3 separate regions of the Homo sapiens genome follow, and regions 2 and 3 are each linked to region 1. Evidence: fine-mapped expression QTL. A gene starts in region 1. Each other region holds a variant in brackets. All regions are shown on one strand. Distances are between the middles of the regions.

Region 1 (2,770 bases):
AGTTGCAATCTTCAGGGAAAGGACGTAGCTTCAAACAAAGGCAAATGCTTTCTCCTTAGCCAAAGTAACATAAAGGTCACTTTCTGTAAAACATCAGGATATTGCATTTTAAAATGCTTTCCATATAACATTAGTTTGATGAACGGCTTAGCCTAGGATTCTGCACCTAGTTCCAATCAAAACCAAGTTGTGAACAGATCCCTTCTTTACACCAATCTCATCTTTCAAGAACGAGCTAAAGGTTCATGAATTCCTTCCTCAAGAGGCAGTTACTTTTCAAGCTAAGGACCAAGCTTGAAACAAGCATATACCTGCACAAGGGAGGTTTAATTTCACTACAGAGCGAATCATTTTTTCAAGGAAACCAGAGGGTGTGTCATACAGCATCACTGAATATTCTAATATGCGATGAAGCTGTTATGCTTCCTTATGAACTTTATAAATCTTCATTTTTATGAGGCTTAGAATTCATCCCCCTTCCCTCTTCCACTGTTTTCCCGGGGTCACAGTTGTAGTATAGTTTGCCCAATGGATTTCGCATGGTCATTGTACCTGGAATATGTCACGCTCCCTACTCTTACTGCCCCCAAACTCTTCTCAGCAGAGATAGGCTGAAAGCAGCTCGCTTTTAGGCGGCGACGCAAACACACGTAGCCAGCTGAGCGACAGCAAGCAACCAAATGGCTTTGCTGGAGGCCCCCTGCGTGCACGGGTAAAGCTCGTTGCAAAATACAGTCCTTTCATTTATTCCCATGTTGCTATTTATGAGACCTGTCAAGGCTGCAAGGGCATGCGCAGCCTTCCCACCACACAGGACCCGCTGGGGTCTCCGGCTCCCCTAAAATTAAACCATTGTCTCTCGTTCCAACGGCGTGTTTAGCTGTTGTGCGTTATTTTACAGATAAAGGAAGGATCCCGTCCACAGACCCAATTCTTAGGGCCGCCTTCTCCCCGACGGAGGAAGAAGCTTCCTGGCAAAAGGACGAACAGGTGCGACGCCAGCAGTTCGCAGCCTCTCACCTGGCCGGCGGGCTGGGCTACTGTCACCACTCAGCAGCCAAGGACTTGGGCCCCGCAGCGGCGGCCACTCGGGGTCTGCCGGGTCCCCTCTCTTTCCGCCTGCTCTCGGCCCCGGACCCCAGACTCAAAAGCGCCTCACGCGTTCCGCCTTAGGCTCACCGTCCGATCTCGCCAGACAGCGTCTGGACGGGACCGGGAAACGGCGGCCGCCACAGCTGTCCAGGTTCTGGGATCCACGCTCAGAGACGACAGCGCTGGCGATCACCAGAAGGCCTGCGGGCTCCCGAGAAAGGAAAATCCGTCTACAGTCCAGCGGCTGACATTTCCCAGTCAGCCGTAGCGCCGCCCGCTTCCGCCTCCCCGCCTACCCCGTGGGCCGACCAGTCCCGCTCCCGCGGGGGGTTGTGGGTATCTCGAAGGCGGGTAAAGCTGCAAGGGAAGGAAGTAAGGGCGAGCCCGTCGGACTACGAAGCGGGACGGAAACTACAATTCCCAGCAGGCCTTGGGCCTCAGTGCGGCCGCGAAGCAGAGCGGGCTGTAGAGCCTTGCGCGCGCAGTGGGGATGGAACGTTGCTAGGCTTAGCGGGTCTGGCTGCTGGGGGCCCGAGCAGCACGCTCGGAGCCGCCGCGCGCCAAAGCGGGAATCTGGGAGGCGAGCAGCTCTGCAGTTAATGCACGTATTTTAAACTCCCGGGCCTGCGGACGCTATGCACAGGTAAACGGATTGCAAAAAGGGGAAGAGCATGAAATGGACCCTCTTAATAATTCTTTTAGGCCGCGAATATCGCTACTGGCTAATATTGTTAGTAATGCTGTTAAGTGAATGGTTGCTTAGCCCCTTCTTGGGGAAAGTGTGAATGGATGGATGCCTTAGTGCGGGGATCAGCGTGTGGTTTTATTTGGCTTCCCTAATTGGGCTTTTCTGCCACCGTTTTCAATCAGTGTATGATTGCCCTGTCTCTCTCCTTGTCTGTTCCCTCCACTGGGAGAAATTCTTGAGGCCTTCTGCAGGATCGTAAGTCAAAAAGCCTTCTCGATTTGTTCTTTTCATTTCTTCGTTTTCTTGGTAACTCGCCGCAGGCACATAAAAAATGCGATTCTGTTAGCTGCTGTGAAGGTTTCCTACAATGCATAAACTGCAGCTTCTTTAATTGCCTTGAAATTATTTATGGGTGTGTTTTCGAAAGGAACCGGGGGTATTGTGCACTTCTGCAGGAAGCACCTCCAGGAGATTCCAGACCTGAGTAGCAACGTTGCCACCAGCTTCACGTGGGGATGGGATTCCAGCAAGACTTCTGAACTGCTGTCAGGCATGGGGGTCTCCGCCCTGGAGAAAGAGGAGCCCGACAGTGAGAACATCCCCCAGGAACTGCTCTCAAACCTGGGCCACCCGGAGAGCCCCCCACGGAAACGGCTGAAGAGCAAAGGGAGTGACAAAGACTTTGTGATTGTCCGCAGGCCTAAGCTAAATCGAGAGAACTTTCCAGGTAAGGACATGAGGGTAAAAATGTCAGTTATGCAAAGGGTGGATTTAGCTATGTTGTTGGGAAACCTTTGTTCAGAGATCTTTAGCATGGGTTCCTTTTAAGATTGCCTAATTCTGAAGCTATTTTTCAACAAAATAGGGCAAGTCGTCAAGTATGCAGGAATCTTGGTAGATATATATATATATATATATATATATATATGTATGTTCTGGTGCATAATCACCTTGAAAATTTTAACCCATGAGAAGACATTCCTGCCTTTT
Region 2 (2,770 bases), 64 kb before region 1:
ACATGTCTCCCTTTCTGAACCTTCTCTCGATTTTTGGGTGCCCCATCACCCTTCTTACGAATTCTAACTAATTCTGTACTCCCCACCCCACCCCAACTCACAGGGAAGAGACAGAGAAGTGGTGAGGTTTAAAAAGCAGCACGAGGGTCTCCCTGTCTAGTATACTAATGAATACACCTGTACCTATTATAATGCAGTAGCCCAGATCAGGGCAGGATGGTGACTCACTAAATTCACTCATTTATACCTGGTTGATCCTGCCAGTTAAAGAAATGCACCCATTTATCTGTTGAGTCAACACAAATTTGTTGAGCATCTACTATGAGCCAGGCAGGGGTGATTCTTCAAATAAGACAAACAAAAACCATCCCCTGTGGAGCTTGTATTTGAGTAGAGAGATGAGCATTAGTATATAGTATATTAGGCAGTGATAAGGAGAAAAAAATAAAGCAGGAAAGTCCCCTCTGAGAAATGACTTCCCAATAAAGACCTGAAGGAAGAGGGTGAGCTAACCATGCAGATGTTCAGTGTTTCTTAACAAATGAGTCCCTGCTATGGGGCAGCATTATGGTTGGCATTTGCAAGGGCATTATCTGATTATGATCCTCACAGCAACCGTGAGGAGTATTGTATGATAAGACACCCCTTTCTCTTTTTTTAAACAAATAATGAGTTTGAGGTTCAGGTTTACTGACTTAACCAAAGTTCCCAAACACCATATTAAGAGATACCACTCTCTTATCAATTTTAATAATTAGTAGTTTTAAAATTGTTCACATACATAACCATGTCATAAGAAATAAAAGCTTGTTTCTTTTTTTCCTTATCCTTAGGTCTTTCAGTTCTCTTTTCTTGTCTTATTATTTTGGGACACACAATGTTGAACAGAAGTAGTGAAGGCAGGCATCCTTGGCTTGTTCTGGATCTCAGAGGGAAAGAATGTAGCATTAAGGATACTTGCAGTAGTTTTGTGTTCTTGTTTACGAATACATATTTACTTATAGGTAGATAGATAAATAGATAAACATTTATTAGAAAATGAATGTTTACTTTTATTCCTTGTTTCCTAGGACTTTTAAAACACATAAATAAATATTGAATTTTATTTAAATGTTTCCTGCATCCATTTGTGATGGTCATGTGACTTTACTCTTTTCCACCATTAATGTGATTTATAATAATTTATTTTCCTTTTTAAAACCCTTTTAAATTTTGCGGCCAGTCACGGTGGCTCATGCCTGTAATCCCAGCACTTTGGGAAGCTGAGGTGGGGGGATCACTTGAGCTCAGGAGTTTGAGACCAGCCTGGGCAGCAGGGCGAAACTCATCTCTACTAAAATTACAAAAATTAGCTGGATGTGGTGGTGCACACATGTAGTCCCAACTACTCAGGAGGCTGAGGTGGGAGAATC[G/T]CTTGAACCCAGGAGACGGAGATTGCAGTGAGCCGAGATTACACCACTGCACTCCAGCCTGGGCAACAGAACAAGGCTCTGTCTCAAAACAAACAAACAAACAAACAAACCTTTCAAATTTTGAAATGTAACCCATATCCAAAAAAGTGCATAAAATATAAATATACAGTATAGTGAATAAGGATGAATAGAAACATACTTGTAAAAAATATTCAAGTGAAGAAACAAAACATTGCCCCTTGAGTGATATCTCTGAATCGGAAGCACTGACTTTTATAGTCAGTCCCCTCACTTGACTTTCTTTATAATTTGCCCAACTATGTATGTATTTCTAAACAATAAAGTTTAGGTTTTGGTAGTTTTCCTGTTTTGGCTATATTGGATATATATTTTAAACCATTCTATCTTTCTTCTATTTAAAGCTATATCCCATTTCTATTCTTTTAATGATTGCAGAGGTTCTAACAAGTGTCCTTAACTTCTCAAAGTCTACGTTAAGCAATATCTTTACCCTCTTTCTGAATATTACCGCAACCTAAAAACACTATAACACTATTTCCTCCACTCCCAATTTATATGGTGAGTTGTGTAATTTAATTCTCTCTATATGTAAGTTTTGCCTTTTTATGATGAAATAAAATGTACATACAGCAAAGCACATACAAAAGAAGGTACTACTTAATAATTCACTACAAAGCGAACCCCTGTAAAACCACCACCGAAGTCAAAAAATAGAACGTAGCCAGCAATCCAGAAGGCTCTTCTGTGCATCATTGCAATCACTAATCCCTTGGTCCCCCTCAAAGGTAAGCAATAGCCTGACATGTATGGTAATCTCTTCCTTGATGTTTTAAATGTTTTTACCACTAGGCATTCCTCTTTTAACTCTACAATTTTATTTTGCCTCCTTTTGAATTGTATGTAGATAAAATTATATTCGATTATTTTTTCCTGTTTTGCCTCTTTTGATCCATATTATGTTGGTGAGTTTTATCCATGTTGTTGTATAGCTGTAACAAATTCATTTCCATTTATTCAGTGAATTTATCCATCCTTTTAGGAAAATTCATTCTGTTGAATGAGTTGTTTGTGATTGGGCTATTATGAATAATGCTACTATGAAGAATATTTTACATATCTCTGGGTGCACATATACACATGTGGATATATATATATATATATGTACATATACAGTAAAATTCCTGAGTATGAGTACTTCAACTTTAGTAGATATTACCAAAATCGTTTTAATGTGGTTTTACCAATTTATACCCAGTGTTCAGTTGCTTCACATTCTTGCCAATACTTATGAGAAAAGAAAAGAGTGCTTATCTGAGGAATATGAGTCTTTTTAAATT
Region 3 (2,770 bases), 29 kb before region 1:
TCTAACTATTTTAAGTACAGTCATGTGTCACATAACAACATTCCAGTCAATGATGGACTGCATATACAATGGTGATCCCATAAAATTACAATACTGCATTTTTACTATTATCTTTTCTATGTTTATATACACAAAAACCACTGTGTTACAACTGCCTACACTATTCAGTACAGTAACATGCTGTATAGGTTTGTAGCCTAGGAGTAATAAGCCATACCATATTGCCTACCTGTACTATACCATCTAGGTTTAGTACATACCCTATGATGCTCATGCAGTGATGAAATTGCCTAACAATACATTTCTCAGAGTAATCCCAGTCATTAAGCAATGCATAATTGTATATATTATGCATTATAAAAAATATGCTTGATGTATACATGTTTTTTAATAGAATTTTTATTATTTGTGAAGTAACAGTGGAAACTGATGGATTATATGTTATATGATAAGTAAAACAGTTATTTTGGGGAAATGTTACCAGATACTTAATATCACATGGTATAAATCAAATAATACAAATAAAATTCAACTTTGCATTGGTGAAAATACATAACTTCTTTCTACAGAAAACTTTTCATCATTAAAGTTTGAAATTTATATCAAATTACATACCAAATGTAGGATTATAAAAATATTGGATAAATCGATTTTCTGGCTCTGGCGATTGAAAGGTGTGAACAAACTGATGAGTAGCACTAGTTTCATTTTTTGCTACATCTTCTAGATAAAATGCTTGTTCCAAAAGAATCTGCCATTGTACTTGAGTTCGACGGTGTCTCTGAACTGAATAAATCACCTAAAAAAGAGAATGGGGGTAGACCTGGCAGTGTTCTGATCCAACAGTGGTTCAACTCTCCACTAGGGAGCATGTTTGGATTGTCATAACAATGGGAAAGTGCTAGGGCATTTACTGGGTCAGGCTGAGAATATTAATGTTCCAAAATGATGTAACAGTTTTATATAATGTAACAGTTATGCTCAGTGAAGAATTCTCCCTCCCCAAACGCCAATAATACCCCTGCTGGTATACACAGAGATAAAATATTTCAAAGAATGATAAGGACGGGATTAAAGGAAGTTTTAAATACACATTCACTAAAAATTCCTTTTTTTATGAGCAATGATTAGAAGTCTAATTAAAATCATCATTAAGTAAAATACTTATAATTAACAAAGTTACCTGTTTATGCAGTTTTACCAGACTTTTTTCACTTGGATAGATACTATGCTTTTCATCAAAATCTTCATAATCATCCATGTTCCTACCCATTTTTTCCTGATACTCTGTAGGGCACTAAAAAAAAAAAAAAGTAGATTTTTAAAAATCTTAATTGTAAAAAGATAAAAATTTATTTTTATTAAAAATCTTTCATTCTTGAGCAGTTCTAATTTTCTCAAAAACATCTTCCTACTTTATTGTCATCTCTAGTTAGACTTCATTTGCTGATATTTTCTTGAAAATGTCTTAAAAGATGTACTGAGTTTCTTCTCACCTTTATAATATTAATCTTTGTGTTCATATATACCAGATAGGTA[T/C]AGATGGCTATAGGCAGGGGAGCTTACCTGCAGGAAGCAACTAGTATTTGAGAAGATTATTCTAAGTAGGATAAATTATTTTTCTAGCTAAAGAATGAAGCAAAATCATGACAAATCCAAGATGCTGAATTTTTGAAAGGCATAGCACAGAGAAATAAATACATGCATTTAAAGTCATCTTCCATACTACTACTCACTTATTACCTATATGAACTTGGGCAACTTAGTTAACCTCTCTTAGTAGTTCTCAAAAAGTAGCAAATGTGAGATAAATAGTTAGAAAAGTGATTCCATGAGTATTATCTTAGCCAAACAGAACACTACACAAGAATCAGTATAACAGATTTAAAATCTAGGAAAATAAATGTTTCCATGGTTCTGTGGGTTTAAAAGACAATTGGGGAACTGCAAATAACCATTTTTGGAAGTATATGAATACCCCTAATTCAATACCAATGCATCAAAACCTTAACTTTATTAAATATAGTTAAGTTTATTATAAATATAGTAAATATATAAATATAAATATAGTTAAATATAGTATAGTTTATTAAATGTCTATGTTAACATCATTCATTTTATGATATATGTCATGAATATATTAATGAAATATATTTGTAAAATAACGTGTAGGCAGCTGATTGTAAGATATTACTGAGGCCTTGGTTTATTTTCTTATAGGAGATATGCCTTTAGTGAACATATACAATGACATTTTAAAGGTTTATTTCCATCATTGTCATGACAATCCTTATATATTACTCAACCTCTATCTCCATATTTCAATAGAAAATACTGCCAATAATTAGTGTTAAACTTGCAGTAATTAAAAAAATTCAAAGTACAAATGGTGTTGGGTTGATATTTCTATGAAAATGAATTTAGAAGACCTCAGCTATAGGCTGTTTTCATACTTTTCTGGTACTTTTGGTATAATATTATATAAGTGTATATTTCAAAAGGAAACAGACAAGATGATTTCATTACCTTTTTAAGTATTGTATCAACACATTTTCTCAATGGGTGATTATACTTGATGCTTTCATTCACTTTACGAACCTCCTATAAAAACAGTAAAATAAATAAAAATATTTCCATTTCTACAGATCACATATTCCAAATGAGAATGCATTAGGTACTATATATTTTCTCACAAGTTCAACTTCAACACAAATTACTTTGCATTACATGAATAAAGGTTCTTAAGAACACAAGTAAAAATACAAAGTCA

Alleles and levels. Positions count from the first base shown, and alleles are read on the strand shown. Sizes are in standard deviations (SD) of each study's normalised expression. Not every link is listed here.
For the expression in fibroblasts of the gene that starts at base 1,352 in region 1, G is the low allele of the variant in region 2 and T is the other (small effect, 0.21 SD a copy in GTEx).

Evidence for each region. PIP is the estimated chance that this variant, and not a neighbour inherited with it, causes the effect.
Region 2: its variant is the best candidate, but not a certain one, in a credible set for the expression of LMBRD2 in fibroblasts (GTEx, PIP 0.76).
Region 3: its variant is the best candidate, but not a certain one, in a credible set for the expression of LMBRD2 in whole blood (INTERVAL, PIP 0.89).

The regions. Positions count from the first base shown.
Region 1 is chr5:36,150,536-36,153,305 of GRCh38, forward strand. It overlaps LMBRD2 (LMBR1 domain containing 2), which reads right to left and starts at 1,352. Exons shown (of 18, transcript NM_001007527.2): 1 at 1,021-1,352. SKP2 (S-phase kinase associated protein 2) reads left to right here and starts at 1,576. Exons shown (of 10, transcript NM_005983.4): 1 at 1,576-1,735; 2 at 2,236-2,507. The coding sequence starts at 1,728. RefSeq lists silencers at 623-682, 1,283-1,422 and enhancers at 636-1,619, 1,693-1,882.
Region 2 is chr5:36,086,897-36,089,666 of GRCh38, forward strand. No RefSeq gene overlaps it. Among named protein-coding and RNA genes, the nearest start is that of UGT3A2, 21 kb to the left of the region's middle. The variant G/T (reference allele first, on the strand shown) is at 1,413.
Region 3 is chr5:36,121,665-36,124,434 of GRCh38, forward strand. It overlaps LMBRD2 (LMBR1 domain containing 2), which reads right to left. Exons shown (of 18, transcript NM_001007527.2): 7 at 2,527-2,601; 8 at 1,184-1,297; 9 at 616-799. Among named protein-coding and RNA genes, the nearest start is that of MIR580, 25 kb to the right of the region's middle. The variant T/C (reference allele first, on the strand shown) is at 1,540.